Homo sapiens: one gene and its partners. The protein of the gene in region 3 interacts with the protein of the main gene of each other region in a biochemical or structural test. Each region holds a gene or a part of one and is shown on either strand. Other genes may lie near its edges. The genes, in order: TTK, RANBP2, CDCA8, CDH1 and KMT2E.

Region 1 (4,373 bases), on a different chromosome or scaffold from region 3:
CTATACAAACCCCAAACAATGATGAAGGAACATCCGCTGCAGCAGAAATCAGCAAATTACAGCCTACAGGCTCAGGCTGAATGTGGCCTGCTGCCTGCCTATTTTTGTAAACAAAGTTTTATTAGAATATGGCTATGCCAATTTGTTTACATATTGTCTATGGCTTTTATTTTCATGCTCTAATGGCAGAGGTGAAAAGCTACAACAGAGCCCATCTAGCCTGGAAAGCCTGCTAACCCTTTACATAAAGTTTGCTAACCCCTGCTGTAGCACATCTCAATTAAATAGAGAACCAAGTTTTGCTTGAATACTTTTAGTAACTAAGCACTCACTAGTCTACAGAGGTTCACTTCAATTTCAGGACAGCTTTAGTTATTAGAAAATATTTGCAGATAATTTGGATTATATTGGTTTATCTATTATAATTTCAACACACTGGTCCTCATTACGCACTTGAGAATTACAATGACTAAATCTATCCTACTTTCTACATTTCAGTCTTGGCCAAGAAATTTTTTTTCCAGGATAAATTTTCCCTCTCATTTAAGACTTCGTGTGTCTGTGCTCACGTACAAGCACGCACATATTTTAAGATTAGTGGTAAAGATGTTACTGAGGAACTGCTGTAATAAGATTAATGAACAAGGAAAATGAAAAAGATCACGATCATAGAGTGGAATGTTAGCATCTGCGATTTTGGAGGTCAGAATTGAGGATATAAGGAGTAGGTGGCTAAAGTAAAATTAAGGAAATGGTCATGAGACACGAAGAAGTTAGAAAAATGAAGGCCAGCTGTAGGACTGGTAATACACAGGGGTGTAGAAGCCAACAAAAACAATGACAGTTGTTGGGATCTGGTTGATCCAGAGCCTTGTATCTTCAAGGAATGATGGGGAGTTACCAGGACATTCAGAGATGAGAGTAAGTCAGAAGTATCAAAAGAGCAGGCCTTTTGCAAGAAAGAGGAAGAAATGGTCTGGACACAGAACAGAGAGCACACAGCCATATGGTAAGTGAGATGTGAGACAAAAACAATCCTCCCTTGAAGGGACTGCTGGACAAGCAGTATCCACAAGAAACTGCCTAGATTCTATACTTTTTCTTTCTACGTGTACTATTCAATGGTTTTTAGTTGCTCAGTGGTTCACAGCTGTGCAACCATCACCACAATCCAATTTTAGAATATTTTCGTCTTCTAAAAAGAAAACTCACACCCATTAGCAATCACTCCCCACTCCCCACTGCTCCCAGCCCCTGGCAACCACTAATCTACTTTCCACCTCTATGGATTTGCCTATTCTGACCATTTTATCTAAATGGGATCATAAAATATATGGGCTTTTGTGGTGAGCTTCTTTCACTTAGCACGTTGTAAATGTTCACTTATGTTGTAACATGTACTAGTACTTCATTACTGTTTATTGTTGATTAACATTCCATTGTATGGATGTACCACATTTTCTTTATCCATTCATCGGTTGGATATTTTGTTATTTCCACTTTTTGGCAATTATGAAAATGCTGCTATGAATATTTATGTACAAATATTTGTGTGGATGTATGTTTTCAATTCTCTTAACTACAAACCTAGGAGTGGAATTATTGGATCATATAAAGCTACGTTTAACCTTTTGAAGAACTCCCAGACTCTTATCCAAAATGACTGCACCATTTTACATTCCCACTAGCAGCATATGAAGGTTCTAAAATTCTCCACATCCTTGCCAACACTTGTTATTGTCTCTTGAATTACAGCCGTCCTAGTGGGTGTGAAGTAGTATCTAATTATGGTTTTGCTTTGCATTTCTTTAATGATCCATATGGTTTTCAGTTCCCTTACAATCCTATTAGTGTACAATTTTCAAATAGAAAAAAAAGAGGAGATGCTGGTTTGATACAATCTATGACTCAACCTATCAGGATCCTTATCATCTAGCATTTGTTATCTACATCTACTACTTAAGAGATCTTACTATGACAATATTTACCTTTCTCACTTTTATTTTCTCATGAGTATATAAGGAGTTTTCCAGAGACTGTATGACATGTAATAATGAAATACATTGAATGCAAAAGCAGACATAAGAATCTAGTCTTCTGTTAAGCCAATCATTAGATTTGTAAAAACTCTAACACAGTGCTACTCTTCCCACTGTAGTTATTTTGTTTCAGAAAATACATATTTTTCATAAAAGTACATTTATATTCACATGAGTTTATCAGTTATTTTATTTCATTTTATTTTTTTTGAGACAGAGTCTCGCTCTGTCACCCAGGCCGGAGTGCAGTGGCATGATATCTGCTCACTGCAAGCTCCGCCTCCTGGGTTCACACCATTCTCCTGCCTCAGCCTCCCAAGTAGCTGGGACTACAGGCGCCCACCACCACACCCGGCTAATTTTTTGTATTTTTAGTAGAGACAGGGTTTCACCATGTTAGCCAAGATGGTCTCGATCTCCTGACCTCGTGATCTGCCCGCCTTGGCCTCCCAAAGTGCTGGGATTACAGGCGTGAGCCATCGTGCCCAGCCCTCAGTTATTTTTAATAAATTAATAAACATTTTTAAAGTTTCTTGGCTTTACTTCCTAATATAGTAAATAGAGATAGATATAATCAACATAAACAAAAGCTCTTTAGGGGCACTGATAATTAAGAGTATAAAAGGCCAAATGTTTGAGAACCACTGAATTAATAAAGCCTTTACTATATTTACTACAAGTCACTGAAAAGAAATGGTAAGGAAACTATGGCCATGAACTGCAGCTATAGCTCTTTAGTATCCTACTTGATCATTCCTTCCGAAAAGCCACCAGGAATGATGACTCAGTATGTTACAAATTCATGTACGTTGTCTAGGCTATATTTTTCTATTTTTATCAATGAGTATGACCACAGGAAACTGTTAAGTGCTTGGGACAGCACTGCGCTAGTTCAGAGATCAGCATACAGTTTTCGGTAAAGGACCAGATAGTAAACATTTTAAACTTTGCAGGCCAAGTGGTCTCTAATACAACTAATCAACTCTGCTCTTATAATGCAAAAGCAGCCATAGACATTAAATGAATGAGTGTGTCAGTGTTCCAGTAAGTCTTTATTTACACAATCAGGCTAAGAACTAGATTTGGCCCATAGCACCAGTCTATCGGCAATCTAGAAACACTATCGAAGATAGAAAATAATTTAGCCTGACTTACTGAACGTATGACTGCTACTGATCACCACTTTATAAATGATTTTAAAAACCTTTAAATAAACTATTCTACTAAATATCATACACATTTAATAAAAGAAAACATTTAATATGATCATCAACCTTCGGAAATGCATTATGAACAAAAAAGCAATATTGTACTTTAGTGGAAAAGTTACCTCTGTATTAACTTTTCGGGCTAACTCCGGAATCTGCCAGTGATTTGAAGATGCAGCAGGATTCTGGTTAATACACTCTGACTTTCTCTTAGATTGCCACTGTTTCTGGTTACTCTCTGGAACCTCTGGTTCTTGATACTCTTTAGTTTCTGAAATTGTATTTGTTGTCATTAAAAAGCAAGAATATTTGATCATAATAAACTAAGCCTAAACAACAGAACATATTACAAACTATATGAGTATTTAGTTCTTAAAAACAATCAAGGAGGGAGAGAAACTAAAAGCTTTAAGCCAGCTGCTTAACAATTTGCTTTTAGCAAGTCAATTTCACAAAGTTGCACTATAGTCATCTTCCTACATTGTTACTAAGAACTTTGTCAGAGACCTTGCCACATTTAAATGCTTCTTTACCAATAAATAAGTAAAAATTTAAAAACATATAGATGTTATAAAGTCTTACTAATAGAGAAGCTAATTCATCACTTTTCATAGACCGAGTATCCAACCCTCAAAATGCAATTTAGAACATTTTTTTTTCCTTTTTGCTTTCAGCCTGGAAGCATACTTTGAAACCCTTAGTTTCTCCCTTTCCCACCAGGCATGTCCATGAACAGTGTTCACTTATCTAATTACGTACTTGCTTAGAAATTTCAGGGGCCAGTTTTGAAACAAACCAAGCAGAGATGGAGTTGCAGACTCCTCTTGCATGGGGGGAGTTTCGAACAGTTAGCCTAGCATTACCCAGCTGAAGTCAAGATGACACAAACCATACCTCCAGATGGGCAATTACTCAATATAACTATCACAACAAGACATTCAGACCTGCACCACTCCTGCATCTCTTCCACACCTTTTCCTTTTTAAACCCCTTCACTCAGCCCAAAAAGTTGAAATGGTCTTTTGAGGGCATGAGCCTGGCCAGTCCCCAGCTGCTAGCATTTGATTAATAAAACTGTTTTCCTTCCACCACACCTCACTTCTCATGTTTTTGGCCTCTGTGTTGT
Region 2 (4,987 bases), on a different chromosome or scaffold from region 3:
TCTTTTCTTTTATTCACATCCAATATTGTTGAAATAAAACAAAATGCTGTTTTTCCTTTTTTAGAAAGGCAATACTTGTTCATTATATCAAAATTTAGAAAATATGGAAAAACAAAAAGGATAAAAAATTATCCACAACCAAAATAGCCCAAATTTCCAGTTAAAAATGTCAACGCATTTGATATTTGTCCACATAATTCAGACTGTAATGTTTACACAAATGTGAGCTTTTAAAATCTAAAAGGTTCTCACTATTAAAAATGTTTTGTTAAATTTTGTTTTAAAAGTAAGATTTTAATATCCAAATTCCCAAAATAGACATTTTTGAAGATTTGGAAAATACAGACGGCTCAAAATCTTTACATTATTACTGTTAAATTTTGGTATGTTCTGTTATTCTGCTAGTGAAATATATATAGATTTGGGGGGGCTATTCCTTTTCCTTTTTTTTTTTTTTTTTGAGACAAGGGTCTCACTCTGGTGCCCAGGATGGAATGCAGTGGCGCTATCACAGTTCATTGTAACCTGGAACTCCTGGACTCGAGGGATCCTCCCGCCTCGACCTCCCAAAGTGCTGGGGCTACCAGCTTAAGCCACTGTGCCAGGCGAATGGCTATTCCTATATACACAGTTGACCCTTGAATAACATGGGTTTGAACTGCCTGGGCCCGCTTATAAGCCGACAGAAAATACAGTATTGGAGGGGCCTGCATATAGAGAGGTCTGACTTTTCCTCTAAGTGTTCCACCCGCAGGACTGACTGCGGGATTTGAGAATGCGCGGACTTCTTCTTCTTCTTTTTTTTTTTAGGAAGTCTTACTCTCGCCCAGGCTTGAGTGCAGTGGCGCGATCTCAGCTCACTGTAACCCTCGCCTCTCAGTTTCAAGCGATTCTCGTGCCTCAGCCTCCCGAGTAGCTGGGATTATAGGGGCCCACCTCCACGCCCAGGTAATTTTTTGTATTTTTAGTAGAGATGGGCTTTCGCCATGTTGGCCAGGCTGGTTTCGAACTCCTGACCTCAGGTGATCCGCCCGCCTCGGCCTCCCAAAGTGCTGGGATTACAGGCGTGAACCACAGCGCCCGGCGGAATGCGTGGATTTTGGCATAAGACGGTGGTTCTGGAACCAATCCCCCGCCGAGATGACTGTTTAAAAAATTGTAATTGTCCAAAACTTAATATTTGTGGTCTTTTTCATTATGCAGTTCTAAATCTCCCTTTTTTTTTTTTTTTAAATTCAGACGGAGTCTCCCTCTGTCGCCCAGACGGCGCAATCTCGGCTCACTGCAACCTCCGCCTCCCGGGTTCAAGCGATTCTCCTGCCTTAGCCTCCGGAGTAGCTGGGACTACAGGCGTCCGACACCACGGCCGGCTAATTTTTTGTATTTTTGGTAGAGATGGGGTTTCCCTGTGCTAGCCAGGATGGTCTCGATTTCCTGACCTCATGATCCGCCCGCCGTGGCCTCTCAAAGTGCTGGGATTACAGGCGTGAGCCACCACGCCTGGCCCTCATTTAATAAGATATGAATTTAAAAATGTATGCTTTAGTATTCACACATGTCCGATGCAACGTATTTAACCAGTCATCTCCAGAAACTTTGTTCCAATTTACACGTTCACCAAATTGGCCTGAGTGCTTTTTTTCTTCCAATGCATTGCGCACTTATAATTTAGAACAAGTGACCAAAACGCTTAAGAGCCCATCACGCAAATTGTTATCTGCTGGAAATCTACGCCCTAGGCTGTGGACACTGGCGGCCGAAATCTGATCCCGGCTTGCCAAGACACCCTCAGAGCACGCGGCGCTGCCAAGAGCCTGGCCGAGTGCAGCTCGAGCGCCGACGTCGCCAACGTGGCGCACACTGCTGACGCAGTACGCAAGTTCGTCACAGTGGTCCTCCGCCGGCTGCGCCGCAAGTTCGTCACAGTGGTCCTCCGCCGGCTACGGCGCTGCGTCACTGGTTTGCAGGCGCTTTCCTCTTGGAAGTGGCGACTGCTGCGGGCCTGAGCGCTGGTCTCACGCGCCTCGGGAGCCAGGTTGGCGGCGCGATGAGGCGCAGCAAGGCTGACGTGGAGCGGTACATCGCCTCGGTGCAGGGCTCCACCCCGTCGCCTCGACAGGTGAGTGGGTCTCGAAGAGACCGACGGCCTCGACCTGGCCGGGCGGCGGCCTCGCGCTGCTCAGGCGTCATGGCTCCCGACGGGCGCTGCTCCCTGGCGCGCTCTGTTGAGGCGCCGGCCGGCTGGCGCAGTCCTGTGGGCGGCGTGGCGCTTGCAAGCGCATGAAGAGTCCTGGGGGGACAGCGGTGGGCGGGAGACCTTTGGCGCCGGCGCTTCCTCTTTCTCCCGGCTTGTTCCCGACGCTTGTTCCCGACGGTGCTCGCTCCTGGGGCCGCCCTGGCCCGGGCTTTCTGGCCGATCGCGCACCCCGTAGTACCCGCGCGGCCTAGTTCTCGGGGGCTTGGGCACCCGGGTGCTGTATCGGCGGGTTTCTTCCCATCTCCTGGACATATACTTTATATGCTGCGGCGGAGGTCGTACCTCCTTGGCCTGGAGGAACCCAGTGGGGACTGACGCAGCTCCGGGTGAGCTTTGGCGGCTGCGTCGAGTGACAAGGTAGGCATCTCAGCGCGGACATTTGCAATGGCCCGACGGCGCAAATGACACTGAAAGTCCCCTTGTTTTGAGTATGAGGTGTTTGTCGCTGTCCCTTTGTAAGGGTCCAGCTCCACTCCGCTCCTCATACTCACCTCCCTCGCCCCCCTCCCCGCCCGGAACACTTTGGTAGCTGCCTTTGCTTAAAAAAAAAAAATTCTAAAGTTCTTACAAATCGTTAGTATGGCTTGCAATTTTTAACCTTTTCCACAAATGTTTTAAGGGTATTTTTCCTCTTTACATGTAAATAATGTGATCTATTTTGGATTCAATAAGACTTTAGTAATTGGATCTAAAGAGTGACGGAAGAAGCTATTAAAGGTGGATGTGCGCAGAATCTTGAGTCAGTTTGCTTTGGCTTGAATAATCACAGCACTGTCGTTTATAAGCTGGGTATTTGGGGCCAGTTACACTTTTCATCCATAGATGGAGTTGTAACATTAATAGAATTTGATAGGATGATCCATTTTAAACATTTAGGGTATTGCTTGACACATAGCACTAAATGTTAGCTACAAGTCACTTTTTATTGTTGATGTTAAAAGGATATTGGCGGGGCGCAGTGGCTCACGCCTGTAATCCCACCACTTTGGGAGGCCGAGGAGGGCGGATTGCCTGAGGTCAGGAGTTCGTGACCAGCCTGGCTAACATGTTGATACCTCGTCTCTACTAAAAATACAAAAAAAGTTAGCCGGGCGTGGTGGCGCATGCCTGTAGTCCCAGCTACCCGGGAGGCTGAGGCAGGAGAGTCGCTTGAACCCGGGAGGCGGAGGTTCCAGTGAGCCGAGATCGCGCTACTGCACTCCAGCCTGGGCGACAGAGGGAGACTCCAAAAAAACAAAAACAAAAACAAAAAAAACCCGGAAACTCACGGATGACCATGATTATAATAGTAGCATAATTGTGTCTCTTATCGTAACTAAGCATAGGTTATCTTATTTTGCGCTTCCAGCAGCCCTGTGGATATTGAGACCTGTAGAGATTTAAGATACTTGTTCAGGGTCAAATAGATAGTGCAGCAGAATTTTGGCAGTGGGTCTGATTTAGTTTCTCTTGGGAACAGTGGAGTAAGTTACAGTCTATTCCTCCAGAGGAGGAGGATAGATATCTACTTGTACATTGTAATTTCAAACTGCTAGCATAGTATAAATATGAATGTGATGATAGAGTCTAAAACAGACCTTAATTGAGGGTTCCTGTAACTCCTGAAATTAAAGACTTTAATTTTTGTGTTATTTTATTTTTTTTGAGGTGGGGTCTCACTCTGTCACCCAGCTGGATGCAGTGGCGCTATCTCGACTCACTGCACCTTCCGCCTCCCCAGCTCAAGCGATGCTCCCACCTCAGTCTCCCGAGTAGTTGGGACCACAGGTGTACCCACCACACCCGCTGTTTTGTTTTGTTTTGTATTTTTGGTAGAGACTGGGTTTCACCATGTTGCCCAGGCTGTTCTTGAACTCCTGGGCTCAAGTGATTTCCCCGCCTCCACTTCCCAAAGTGTTGGGATTATAGGCGTGAGCCACTGCACCGGCCATTATTTTATTTTTGAGACAAGGTCTCTTTCTGTCTCCCAGGCTGGAGTGCTGTGGCGGGATCGTGGCTCACTGCAGCGTTGACGTCCTGGGCTCAATCCATCCTCCCACCTTAGCCTCCTGGGTAGCTGAGACTACAGGCATGTGCCACCATGCCCGGCTTTTTTCTTTAATGTAGAGACGGGGTCTTATCATGTTACCCAGGCTGGTCTCCAACTCCTGGGCTCAAGTGATCCTCCCGCCTTGGCCCCAAGTGCTGAGATTACAGGTGTGAGCCACTCTGCTCAGCCTGATTTTTTTTTTTTTAAACAAGCTTAAAAAAAAAAAAAAGCAAGCTTAGAGCCTTTCTGAGATTCTTAGTGGGGACCTTGGCTTCCAAAAGATTAAAAACCACTGGTCTAGACAGAAGTTAGAATGTTCTTTCAACTACATAACTTCTCCATTAAATAAAGTGGAGTGGTGGCAGAATTTTGAGGATTGGTTATTATGACACCTCTCTTACACTTAGAGTCTTTTTTTTCCCCCAAATTTAAAGTCATTTACATTAGAACCTGGGGATTTCAGCGGAATATGGATTAACTAGTGAGTAACTTTGGAACATGTGAAGCTATTCTGTAAAGTTAGGTTTGAGTGAAATGACAAAACAGGGTGCTTTGGATAGAAGGTAAAGAATGGAGGGAGAAGAGGCAGTGGCTGTGAAGAATATGAAGAGGTTAGTATTCTCCCCCAGTTTGGCAGAGGCTGGCCATCTGTGAACTGCCCATGCTTTCTAGAATGTCGGAGTTTTGGAGTGTGATGATGC
Region 3 (4,373 bases):
TTAACTATCCAAAGCTTGTTCTTAATGCTTTAAAAAAAAAAAAAAAACCCTCCTTACCTTCCTCTTTGCTGGGTTTTTTGTAACCTTAGTCTCATTTGATTGTGACTGCAGGTCAAAAGGTGTCCTCCATCCAAGAAGAGAACTCAGTCCATACAAGGAAAAGGAAAAGGGAAAAGGTAGTGGATTTTCTAAAGTTGTGGTGTTTTGGGTTTTATTGGAGAGCCATATATATCATGGCAGAAAGTGAGGGGCAGTGAAAAGGCTCTGGTGGCTAGTGTTTGAAAGCAGCTTAAAATCACTGAATCCTTGAGTATCCAAGCTGGAGGGGTCTCTAGAAATGACCTAAACCAAAACCATCTCCAGTACTTTAATGTACATTCTCTATCCTTCCCCACTTTTTTTTTTTTTTTTTTTTGAGACGGAGTTTCAATCTCGTTGGCCAGGCTGGAGTGCAATGGTGCAATCTTGGCTCACTGCAACTTCTGCCTCGCGGGTTCAAATGATTCTCCTGCCTCAGCCTCCCGAGTAGCTGGGATTATAGGCATGTGCCACCATGCCGGCTAATTTTGTATTTTTAGTAGATGCGGGGTTTCTCCATGTTGGTCAGGCTGGTCTTGAACCCCCGACCTCAGGTGATCCACCCACCTCAGCCCCCACTTTTTTTTTTTAAGTATAGCAAGAACTGCCTGTTATGTTTCAGTTCCTGATAGTCCATATGTAGAGCTACCCCATAGCTCGTCATAGAGTGGCTGTCACTTACCTATAATTGGTTTCTTGAAATGTTTTGTCCAGTCCTGCAAAGTGAAGAACCTCTATGGGCTTGAGTTGATTATACTGGACTCTACCATAAGCCATGTGGGGGAAGGTACAGCAGCTTAGGAGAGTAGTCACCGGGATGCATGTCTGTGGAGGAGCGAACTCATTTCTCTTGAGCAGTGCAGCAGCTGCCTGGCACAAGGACAGAATTCCAGCTGGGGGAGCCTTCGCATGAAGAGGCTGTCTCCTTGATTAAAAAGTCAGATTCTGAGGCTGAGTGTGGTGTCTCACACCTGTAATCCCAGCACTTTGGGAGGCCAAGGCAGGTGGATCACTTGAGGTCAGGAGTTTGAGACCCGCCTGGCCAACATGGTGAAACCCTGTCTCTACTAAAAATACAAAAATTAGCCAGGTGTGGTGGTGCATGCCTGTAGTTCCAGCTACTCGGGAGGCTGAGGCAGGAGAATCGCTTGAACCCAGGAGGTGGAGGTTGCAGTGAGCCAAGATTACGCCATTGCACTCCAGCCTGGGCAACAGAGCAAGACTCCGTCTCAAAAAAAAAAAAAAAAGTCAGATTCTGGAGGCAGACTACTTTGGTTCAAAGTTTTGGCTCCATCCTAATTGGATATGTGATCTTGGGCAAGTTTTTAAAACTTGATGCACCTGAGTTTCTGCATCTGTGTATGAGGATGGCAGCAGTGCTGGCCTCCCGTGTTAGAAGGGTCACGTGAGTCGATGTGTGCGAGGCGCCCGGAGCAGTATCTCACAGTCAGCTCTCCACGTGTCACTCCTCTGCTGCTGCCTTCGTGGAACCTGAGAGTTGGCATACCTGATGGCCATTTCTTACCTGTAGGTCAAGCCGTGCTAACACTGTTACCCCAGCCGTGGGCCGATTGGAGGTGTCCATGGTCAAACCAACTCCAGGCCTGACACCCAGGTTTGACTCAAGGTGAGTATCGAGGGAAACACTTGGATTTGATGGGACTCCAACATTGAGCACTACCCAGAGAAGGAGTGTCTAAGAAAATACTCCTAGGCCAGGCACGGTAGCTCACGCCTGTAATACCAGCACTTTGAGAGGCCGAGGCAGGCGGATCACTTGAGGTCAGGAGTTCAAGACCAGCCTGGCCAAGATGATGAAACGCTGCGTCTACTAAAAATACAAAAATTAGTTGGGTGTGGTGGTGCACGCCTGTAATCCCAGCTACTCAGGAGGCTGAGACAGGAGAATTGCTTGAACCCAGGAGGTGGAGGTTGCAGTGAGCTGCAATTGCACCACTGCACTCCAGCCTGGGCAACAGAGTGAGACTCTGTCTTAAGAAAAGAAAAGAAAATAGTCCCGAGTCCTTGGCCTGGGATGCCTTGTCAGAGGACAGTGGCCAGCTGGGTTTCCTGGTGTATGCCTCTCCCTTAAGTGTAGTTTCACCTATCTTCAGTGGCAAAATGATTCTTTAATGGGAGGGAGGTGAATATTCTGCCTGTGATGACTAGGAGGCCTCTAGGTGACGTTTTTGGCCTTTTCTGATTCAAATCAGAAGGTTTTTATTTTATTTTTAAAATATTTATTTATTATGAGGCAGGGTCTCACTCCAATGCCCAGGCTGGAGAGCAGTGGCACAATCACGGCTCACTGCAACCTTGACTTCCCGGGCTCAAGTGCTTCTCCCACCTTAGCTCCCAAGCATGCCACCATGCCTGGCTAATTTTTTGTTTTTTTGTAGCGATGGGATTTCGCCAGGTTGCCCAGGCTGGTCTCGAACTCCTGAGCTCAAGCAATCTGCCCACCTCGGCCTTCCAATGTACTGGGATTACAAGCATGAGCCATCACACCCGGCCTCAAATCAGTTTTTTAAAGATGAGTAGGCACTCTCCTGTACTCTTGGTAGAAGTAAAAATTGATACTGCTTTTTTGGAGGCTGGCATAAGCGAGGATATTCTTGCAGCATAAGTTAATACCTTCCAAAGAACCTAGTTGACCAAATAGGAGATGCTGTATAGCCATTAAAAAAGACTGGATCTGTGTGTGCTGACAGGGAAAGAGCACCGTGATCACAGAGCATCTCCGAGCAGGTTGCTGAACACTGTGCTGTATGATCCCATTTGGTTTTATATACATACAAAGTTTCTGGAAGGATAGATAAGGAATTCAGAGTGGTTACCCCTGGGGAGGAGAGCAAGAAGTGGTTATCTCTGGTGTGGGGAAGTGTTGAAGATTTATTTTCTACTTTTAATTGCCACTTTTTTTTTTTTTTTTTTTTTTTTTTTTTGAGACGGAGTCTCGCTCTGTCACCCAGGCTGGAGTGCAATGGCACAATCTCGGCTCACTGCAACCTCCACCTCTCAGGTTCAAGCAATTCTCCTGCCTCAGCCTCCTGAGTAGCTGAGATTATAGGTACATGCCACCATGCCCAGCTAAGTTTTGTATTTTTAATAGAGACAGGATTTTGCCATGTTGGCCAGGCTGGTCTCGAACTCCTGACCTCAGGTGATCCACCCCCCTCGGCCTCCCAAAGTGCTGGGATTACAGGTATGAGCCACGGCACTCAGCCAGTTCCCACTTTTCTTTACTGTTTGTTTTCTCACATGAATATGTAACAAAAGGCATTTAGGGAAAACTAGGTAGCAGTATTTTAACTGTCTTGAGAAATTAGTATAATGATGTAATATCTAAATCATCCTCCTTTGCCTCTGAAAAATTCCTCTTGATGGAAGCAGCCACGCCTGGAAACAATTAACCAGCGTATTTCTGGCTTTGTGGATGGATGGATGATGGCACCCATATGGAGCTTTGGACCTAAACTTTATGTGGATAAGAGTTGGCTTTTTGTAAGATGTATGTTCAATAATTACAACCTTCTTTCTCCAGCTGTGTTTAGTCATTACTGCTTTAAAACATTTTTTTTTTCTAAATTTAGAACGTGCTTTCTTAGGAATGTATGACTTAAAAACTGCAACTTGAGGCCAGAGTAAGGTTAAAATGGCCTATAGAGTTTGGTGTCATCCAATTGCCAAGCTATCTTCACAGAGATTTTCCCATTCTAGGGTCTTCAAGACCCCTGGCCTGCGTACTCCAGCAGCAGGAGAGCGGATTTACAACATCTCAGGGAATGGCAGCCCTCTTGCTGACAGCAAAGAGATCTTCCTCACTGTGCCAGTGGGCGGCGGAGAGGTGAAGTATTTCCAAGGGAAGCCAGGCCACAGTGTGCTGCTTAGTCAAGCATTTCTTTTCCCTGGGCCCTCACCCACGCTTCACCCTCAGAGTCCTTTCAGTGCGTGGGTCCTGATCTCCACACTTCTGCGGGACTCAGAACCCAGTTTTCTCTCCCAGGTTAGAGGCCCAGACTGCAAAGATCGTTGCTCAGCTCTGGGTTCTGTTTTTCTGTTTTTTGGTTTTGTTTTTGTTTTTTGTGGGTTTTTTTTTTTTTTTTTTGAGATGGAGTCTTGCTCTGTCACCAGGCGGGAGTGCAGTGGTGCGATCTCGGCTCACTGCAACCTCTGCCTCCTGGGTTCAAGCGATTCTCTTGCCTCAGCCTCCTGAGTAGCTGGGACTACAGGCACACGCCATCATGCCCAGCTAACTTTTGTATTTTTGGTAGAGATGGGGGTTTCACCACGTT
Region 4 (4,373 bases), on a different chromosome or scaffold from region 3:
CTGGGGCAGATTCAGGGACCAGGTCTTTAGTGTCTGTTTCCAGAGGCCCTTACGCCTGGAACAATGACCACTTGATGTAATTCATTGCTTTGCACTTCCAAAGAAGTGAGGCCAAGCCCACAGTTTCTTAGAGCCCTTTCCTCCTTTGATTTCTTAGTTTCTCTTTCAGAGCCTTTCCATGACCCTAGTAAATAACTGAGCAGTAGATCTCTGTTAGCCTCCCTGTACCTCCCATTAAATGGCAATAGTGCAGTCCACCCACAGGTCAACAGGGCAACCTGCATCTCCAGATGTTCATGACAGGAGAGGAGGTGGCATGTTGCCACCATTTAGGAACTACTGTATTGTTTGGGGGAGCTGGTCTGCAGGAGTCTGCTTTTAAAAATAAATAAGGATTATAGTAATCATTGCTTCAGCAAGAATCATCCACAGATGCCAAATCCATTGGGTGAAAATTAGTTGCTGAACAAGATATTCTCAAATTATCTACCTGCAGATTATAGGTTAATCATGCAGTGAAAAAAGGCACCTTTGCTGTGAAGAAATCTGGTGGCCTTTCCCTTATCCAAGTGATCAAAGTTATCAATAGAAGCACAGACAGACATCATGTGCCTCCCAGTGTCCTGCACTAGGGAGGCCACAGCATCACCTCTGTCCTGTTCTTGCCCCCACCGACCCCTGAAATGGATTACCTGAATCTAAATTTTGAGGAATAATCAGACAAACCCAAGTTAAGGGGCATGCTACAAAACAACGGCCAGCACATTTCAAAAATGTCAGTGACAGAAAAGAAAGACCTAAGGAAGAGCCATGCCAACGAAAGGCCATATTGGATCCTGAATCCAGAAGGGTGCAAGGTTGCTATAAAGGACATTTTTGGAAAATCTGACAATTCGAATATGCACCATATATTCGACAATAGAATTCTATCAAAGTTTTGTTTCCTAAAATTGAAAATCAAGACTGGTCACGGTGGCTCACACCTGCAATCCCAGTGCTTTGGGAGGCCGAGATGGGTGGATCATCTGAGGTCAGGAGATCGAGACTATCCTGGCTAACATGGTGAAACCTCGTCTCTACTAAAAATACAAAAAATTAGCCGGGCGTGGTGGCGGGTGCCTGTAGACCCAGCTATTCAGGAGGCTGGGGCAGGAGAATGGCATGAACCTGGGAGGTGGAGCTTGCAGTGAGCTGAGATCACGCCACTGTACTCCAGCCTGGGCGACAGAACGAGACTCTGTCCCAAAAAAAAAAAAAAAGAAAAGAAAAAAAAAGAAAATCAAATTGGGGTTATATAACAGAATGCCTTTGTTCTTAGGAGATAACACATTGACATATTTATAAGTAAAGGAACATGACTTCTGCAATTTATTTGCAGATGGTTCAGCAGAACAAGAAATTATGTAGGCGTGTGTCAATATAGACAGAGCAGATGTGGCAAAGTATTAACAATGAGTAAACTCAGGTGAAGAGTTCATGGATGGTCATCATACTATTATAGTAACTTGTCTGTTGTATTGTTGGTTTTCTTGGTTTTCTTTTTTTTTTTTTTTTTTTAAAGACGGAGTTTCGGCCGGGCGCGGTGGCTCACGCCTGTAATCCCAGCACTTTGGGAGGCCGAGACGTGCGGATCATGAGGTCAGGAGATCGAGACCATCCTGGCTAAAACGGTGTAAACCGCGTCTCAACTAACAATACAAAAAAATTAGCCGGGCGTGATGGCGGGCGCCTCTAGTCCCAGCTACTCCGGAGGCTGAGGCAGAAGAATGGTGTGAACCCAGGAGGTGGAGCTTGCAGCGAGCCGACATCGCGCCACTGCACTCCAGCTTGGGCTACAGAGCAAGACTCCGTCTCAAAAAAAAAAAAAAAAAAAAAGAAAGAAAGGGTTTCACTTTTGTTGCCCAGGCTGGAGTGCAGTGGTGCAATCTCGGCTCACTGCAACCTCCATCTCCCAGGTTCAAACGATTCTCCTGCCTCACCCTCCCCAGTAGCTGGGATTACAGGCGTGTGCCACCACACCCAGCTAATTTTTGTATTTTTAGTAGAGACAGGGTTTCACCATGTTGACCAGGCTGGTCTCAAACCCCTGACCTCAGGTGATCTGCCCACCTCAGCCTCCCAAAGTGTTGGGATTACAGGCATGAGCCACCGCGACCGGCCTATTGTTGGTTTTCAAAATAAAAACGTTGGAAGTAACCATATAACTGAAGAAGCGCTTAAGCCGTTTTCAGCTACATGTTGTTTGCTGGTCCTATTCTAAAAGCCAGAGCTTGTCCCCGTTCAGATATCGGATTTGGAGAGACACTGCCAACTGGCTGGAGATTAATCCGGACACTGGTGCCATTTCCACTCGGGCTGAGCTGGACAGGGAGGATTTTGAGCACGTGAAGAACAGCACGTACACAGCCCTAATCATAGCTACAGACAATGGTAAGGGGGCCTCATCTGAGCCTTTGCTGCCTCGACCTCCTAGCTAGTTCAGTTCCTTGCCCCTCCCTTCTTTTGGAGGGAAGAGTTCATTCTTTTTCTTTTATCCTTTTTGTTTGCTGGATTGATTTGTATAAATGTATGGAGTACAAGGGTAATTTTGTTACATGCATAGATGTGTAGTGGTAAAGTCAGGGCTTTTAGGGTATCCGTCACCCAAATAACATGCATTGTACCCATTAAGTAATTGTTCATCATCTACCCCCTCCCACCCCTTGGACCCTTCCCAGCTGCCATTGTCTATCATTCCACAATCTACATCCATGTGTACACATTATCGAACTCCGACTTCTAAGTGAGAACATGCAGTATTTCTCCTTATATGTCTGATTCGTTTCACTTGAGACAATGGCCTCCAGTTTCATCCATGTTGCTGCAAAAGATTTCTCTTTTATTCTTAAACAAAGGCATTCTTATTATCAAAAATTCAAGTGGGCTGGGCACGGTGACTCACACCTGTAATCCCAGCACTTAGAGAGGCTGAGGTGGGAGGATCACTTGAGCCCAGGAGTTCAAGACCAGCCTGGGTAACATGGCAAAACCCTGTCTCTACAAAAAGTACATAAATTAGCTGAGTGTGTTGGTGAGCACCTGTAGGCCCAGCTACTCAGAAGGCTGAAGTGGTAGGATTGCTTGAGTCTGAAAGGTGGAGGCTGCAGTGAGCCAAGATTGCGCCACTGCTCTCCATCCTGGGCAACAGAGCAAGACTCTGTCTCCAAAAAAAAAATTGTTTTTTCAAGTAATTTTGGTCAAACAGAACTTACTTTTCACTACTCACTCTTTATTCCTTCCCTAAGGGAACCAGGTAATGATGGTTTACAATCCATTTCCAAAGCTTAATACTTGTGTGACCTTGGATTTGCTGTTTAATTTTTTTTTTTTTTTTGAGACAGAGTCTTGCTCTGTCACCCAGGCTGGAGTGCAGTGGTGCAATCTTGGCTCACTGCAGCTTCCGCCTCCCAGGTTCAAGCAATTGTCCTACCTCAGCCTCCCAAGTAGCTGGGATTACAGGTGTGCACCACCACGCCCAGCTAATTTTTTGTATTTTTAGTAGAAACGGGGTTTCACCATATTGGCCAAGCTGGTCTTGAACTCCTGACCTTGTGATCTGCCCACCTTGGCCTCCCAGAGTGCTGGGATTACAGGTGTGAGCCACCGTGCCTGGCCTGCTGTTTAATTTTTATGTCCCTCAATTCCTTTACCTGAAAAATGTTAATACCCATGTGGGTGAAATTAGTTAGGTGTTAAATCAGTTAGGTGTGGGTCCTTCCAGACTGCTTCTGTGTATTTAAATACATTTATAGGCTGGGTGCTAGGGTCACACCTGTAATCCCAACACTTTGGGGGTCTGAGGTGGGAGATGGCTTGAGGCCAGGAGTTCAAGACTAGCCTGGGCAACATACTGCCCATAATCTCAAAATGCTGGGATTACAGGCATGAGTTATCATGCTTGGCCTCCTTGAGTTAATTTTAAATGACGTGTGCTCATTGTTAAAAAATAAAATTTACATGAGAAAAAAGTTTTAAAAATTTACAGTCATGCCATCTAGACATATCTATTTATAGGTTTGAGATGGATTCTTCTGTTGTTTTGTATCCGTATCGTATACTAATATTGATGATAGTTCCCTGGGTACCAATTTTTCCTACTACCATATGCTCCGTGTTGTGTCAAGATATAAAAGAAATGCAAACAGAAGTGTGGATGGGCTGGGCGCAGTGGCTCACGCCTATAATCCCAACACTTTCAGAGGCTAAGATGCGAGGATCACTTGAGCTCAAGAGTTCAAGACCAGCCTGAGCAACATGATAAGACCCCCTCTCTACAAAAAAAATTTAAAAACTAGCCAAGCATGGTGGCATGCGCCTGTAGTCTCAGCTACTAG
Region 5 (4,373 bases), on a different chromosome or scaffold from region 3:
GATGTTATTTCCTGCCCCCCATTAAAATTAATATTTAGGTAGTATTAAATACCAACAAGAATAAACCTCAAGGTACACAAAATGTTCCTTGAATGTATATAATTTGTTTTCTCTTCATAGCCTGGTTCACCTGGATCTGTAATTCCTGCTCAAGCACACGGGAAAATATTCACAAAACCAGATCCCCAATGGGACTCCACAGTTAGTGCATCCGAAGCTGAAAATGGTGTTCACCTAAAAACAGAGCTCCAACAAAAACAGCTATCAAATAACAACCAAGCACTTTCAAAGAATCATCCTCCTCAGACACACGTTCGTAATTCATCTGAGCAACTTTCACAAAAGCTGCCTTCTGTGCCAACAAAGTTGCACTGTCCTCCATCACCTCACCTAGAAAATCCTCCAAAGTCATCCACGCCTCACACACCTGTACAGCATGGTTATCTTTCACCAAAGCCTCCTTCACAGCAGTTAGGATCTCCCTACAGGCCTCATCATTCACAGTCACCTCAAGTTGGAACACCTCAGCGAGAGCCTCAAAGAAACTTTTATCCAGCAGCACAGAACCTTCCAGCCAATACTCAGCAGGCAACTTCTGGAACATTATTTACACAGACACCCTCAGGACAATCTTCAGCAACATACAGTCAGTTTAACCAACAAAGTCTGAACAGCACGGCACCACCCCCTCCACCTCCTCCACCTCCTTCTTCGTCTTACTATCAAAACCAGCAGCCCTCTGCAAACTTTCAGAATTATAATCAGCTCAAAGGTAGTCTTTCTCAACAAACTGTGTTTACATCAGGACCAAATCAAGCACTTCCTGGCACCACAAGCCAGCAAACAGTTCCAGGACACCACGTGACTCCAGGGCATTTTTTGCCCTCTCAGAACCCTACCATTCACCATCAAACTGCTGCTGCCGTAGTCCCCCCTCCTCCTCCACCACCACCTGCTCCAGGACCGCACCTTGTACAACAGCCGAATTCCCATCAGCAACACTCTGTAGCACATGTAGTAGGGCCTGTTCATGCGGTCACCCCTGGGTCGCATATTCATTCTCAAACTGCTGGACACCACTTACCCCCACCCCCACCCCCTCCTGGTCCTGCCCCTCATCACCATCCACCACCCCATCCATCCACAGGACTCCAAGGTCTACAAGCACAACACCAGCATGTTGTAAATTCAGCACCCCCACCACCCCCTCCGCCGCCACCTTCCAGTGTTTTGGCTTCTGGGCATCATACCACATCAGCTCAAGCCTTACACCACCCACCTCATCAAGGACCTCCACTTTTTCCTTCGAGTGCTCATCCAACTGTACCACCGTATCCCTCACAAGCTACACATCATACCACTTTGGGACCGGGACCCCAGCACCAGCCTTCTGGAACAGGGCCACATTGTCCATTACCTGTCACAGGTCCTCATCTCCAGCCCCAAGGACCAAACAGTATTCCAACACCTACTGCTTCAGGGTTCTGTCCTCATCCTGGCTCTGTGGCCCTGCCACATGGGGTTCAAGGACCTCAGCAGGCATCTCCAGTGCCTGGACAGATTCCAATTCACAGAGCACAGGTGCCACCAACATTTCAAAACAATTACCATGGGTCAGGGTGGCATTAAAATGGACTCCAAAAACATTTTTTTAAATGTTCTGTAAGATAAACTGTATATTTCATATGTACCTGTTAAGGTACTTTTTAAAGCTTGTACATGAACCTTTGTATAAAAAACACCAGTGCTCTTTCGTTGTATTTTTCTCATTTTTGCTTTTTAAAATTCCTTTAAAAAATGTGCTGTTAAGCCAGTATTAGGTATCTTTATTTTGTAAGTGAACATTCCAGCTGTTTTTTTCTGGCAGATCTGATGCTGATTTGATGCTGTATGATCTTTTTTTTTTTTTTAGTTAAATTCATTTAGTGAATGTTCTATTATTTTATACATACACATTAAGTACTCAGCTAAGTAATGGCACTATGAGGATTTTTTTTTTCTTTCCTGTCAGCAGCAGTTCTGTGAATGCATCTTAGGTATAAAAATGCAATACAGATTTTTATATTTTGGTGTGGACATGGCTCATTTTGTTTTACCAGTTATTTGCAAGCAAAATGTAATTTAATGTATAGATGATTTCTAATGTCTCCTGACAAACTGTAAATACTGCATTTCTTTTGCGTATATAATTGCTTACAGCTTTTCTCATTTGATATATAGCATTGTACATATGACAAGTCTTTTGCAAAACTGTGTGATCTTTGTGAAAGTAGTACAGTATATGACCTTTAATTTCTTTTTTATTTTAAATATACTGTCACACTGAAGCACTGGTTGGGCATTTTAATTCATGTTAATAAATCACAATTATGTCAGTTTTACCAGATTGTCCTGTACAACTTCTAAGATCGGGATCTGTGTGTTTCTACAGAAGTTCTAGTTTTCAAATATAGATTGTAAGGAGCCTTCAATTTTCTTTAGCGACTACTACCTCAGCAACAGGAGGCAGCAAGGGGCTGTTCCTGTGGTGGTTTCTGTTTGCATTTTTGCAGGAGCCATAGGAAACTACTGAAATGATTGTGCTGGGTAAATTAAGGATCTGGCATCATACAAAATGAAGCCAGACCACTAATGCATTACAGTAGTTCTTGAATACAAGGTACAACAACTGTTTGAAAATATGGGTAGTTTGCCCAAAACAGGAAAATTTGTCTTGGGTGTAAAAACTAAAGAAAAAAGGCATTATTCCTAGATCTCTCAGTGAAATGAAAATGGCCTCTTAAGTGAACGTTTTTATTGCTAAAATATAAAATGCTAGTTAGTTATTAATTATTAATCTTCAAAAAATTAAAAATTTCCCAGCCTTTGTCTTCTACCTCTGAGGATTCAGTAAGTACATCCAATAATAATGATACTGTTTTATCAATCAACATATTTTTCATCATCCAATTACCTGACATAATTTGGCACAGGATACAAATTCTGTGCATCAGAGAAAGTAAACACTAAAATGACTGCGTGACCTCATTCAGTCATGTTTTTACACTTTGAACCTCTATTTATTTCCTTTTGAAAATTAGCTAATGATGGTACATTAACGCAGCTCACTTAGGGCTCAATCCTAATCACAGCTTCAAATTTTAGAAGAACATATAGGCCAAGTTTGCCATCCTCAATTTGTCCAACAAAATTCTATTTATGGTATTTAGTAAAGAAACATTTGTCTGAGAAGAAATGGTTTTACATCATCTATCCTGATAGTTTCAAACAGAATAAAGGTAACTAGCATGTGAAATAAAAATATTCTTCTTAAAAGGTTTGTCCTTCTAAGCATTTTAAATTCTTCACTGGCTTGAAATGTGCCTACTACAGAAATATGCATACAGAAGCTTTTGTGTGAACTGCAGAATCTTATACATTTTGATTCCTTGATGAAGTATATACTCTAAAATACAGTCTTCTACCAAAATTTCATTCAAGTTATTTAAAAGGGGGAGAAAAAAGGAGAATTTAGGAAATAACCTGAACTATGGATAGAAACTGAAGAAGTTCTCTACTCCAATGGAAAGTTTCCTTACTTTATCGTGGTAACTAGTTATGTATGGTCCAGGTATGGGAAGAAGCAAGTTAGTAAATCGGTTTTCACCTAAGAAGTTTATGACTCGGAAGATCTTATATCCACCTTTTCTCTGCCTTTGGGCAGTTCTGTCTGCCAACTTCTAGATAGCCAGCTCCTGTATCTGCTATAAACACATATGTGATCCACTGCTTGTCATTTTCCATGAAGATTTCACATGGACTACAGAAAGGAAAAGATAGATAGGACATTCAATTGAAGTCAGAGAGCTAGTTATAATGTTTAGCATAACCAGTGGTTCTCATTTAGTTTTTGTGCATTCTTTATCAACAAGCCGCCAAGAATCTGATAAAGCCATATTATGCCTAATACAAATGTATATTCCTTCTAGAACAACCGTTTCTGTATTATAAACTAGTTAGGCTGTTTTATCATAAGGGACACACCTGTAAAAATTCATAATCTAGTTTATTTTCCAACATAAGCAAAAACTGCATTAGACAAATTTCATTCAAGTATACTATCACCCTGATAAAAATCCTTTTACACTTAGGGAAGATATAAATTATGCCCTATGGTTCTTGTAAGGATGTTTCTCATAGAAATCACGGATAGCATCACCAGTCTACAGCCACTATCTATCACAGAATTTACATGGAAACCTACAGCCTCATTAGAAAAACTTAGCATGCAAATTTCATAAAGAAATTAATGAATGATCCATTCTACCTCACAGTGGTAATGTGATATAATGGTAATTCCTAAGAGGATTATGTGTCTTGTTTCCTAACAGCAA

Evidence for each region.
Region 1: of the proteins of CDCA8 (region 3) and TTK, one has a biochemical effect on the other in vitro, tested with the Homo sapiens proteins (one study listed by BioGRID and IntAct).
Region 2: of the proteins of CDCA8 (region 3) and RANBP2, one has a biochemical effect on the other in vitro, tested with the Homo sapiens proteins (one study listed by BioGRID).
Region 4: the proteins of CDCA8 (region 3) and CDH1 form a complex in vitro, tested with the Homo sapiens proteins (one study listed by BioGRID).
Region 5: the proteins of CDCA8 (region 3) and KMT2E form a complex in vitro, tested with the Homo sapiens proteins (one study listed by BioGRID).

The regions. Positions count from the first base shown.
Region 1 is NC_000006.12:80,021,469-80,025,841, reverse strand, and holds part of TTK (dual specificity protein kinase TTK), read right to left. Parts: intron 3,519-4,373; coding exon 3,370-3,518; intron 1-3,369.
Region 2 is NC_000002.12:108,717,560-108,722,546, forward strand, and holds the start of RANBP2 (E3 SUMO-protein ligase RanBP2), read left to right. Parts: upstream 1-1,922; 5' UTR 1,923-2,047; coding exon 2,048-2,119; intron 2,120-4,987. UniProt on the Homo sapiens protein: E3 SUMO-protein ligase which facilitates SUMO1 and SUMO2 conjugation by UBE2I. Involved in transport factor (Ran-GTP, karyopherin)-mediated protein import via the F-G repeat-containing domain which acts as a docking site for substrates.
Region 3 is NC_000001.11:37,701,643-37,706,015, forward strand, and holds part of CDCA8 (borealin), read left to right. Parts: intron 1-111; coding exon 112-176; intron 177-1,609; coding exon 1,610-1,705; intron 1,706-3,798; coding exon 3,799-3,925; intron 3,926-4,373.
Region 4 is NC_000016.10:68,816,996-68,821,368, forward strand, and holds part of CDH1 (cadherin-1 isoform 1 preproprotein), read left to right. Parts: intron 1-2,284; coding exon 2,285-2,430; intron 2,431-4,373.
Region 5 is NC_000007.14:105,111,705-105,116,077, forward strand, and holds the end of KMT2E (inactive histone-lysine N-methyltransferase 2E), read left to right. Parts: intron 1-120; coding exon 121-1,629; 3' UTR 1,630-3,315; downstream 3,316-4,373. UniProt on the Homo sapiens protein: Associates with chromatin regions downstream of transcriptional start sites of active genes and thus regulates gene transcription. Chromatin interaction is mediated via the binding to tri-methylated histone H3 at 'Lys-4' (H3K4me3).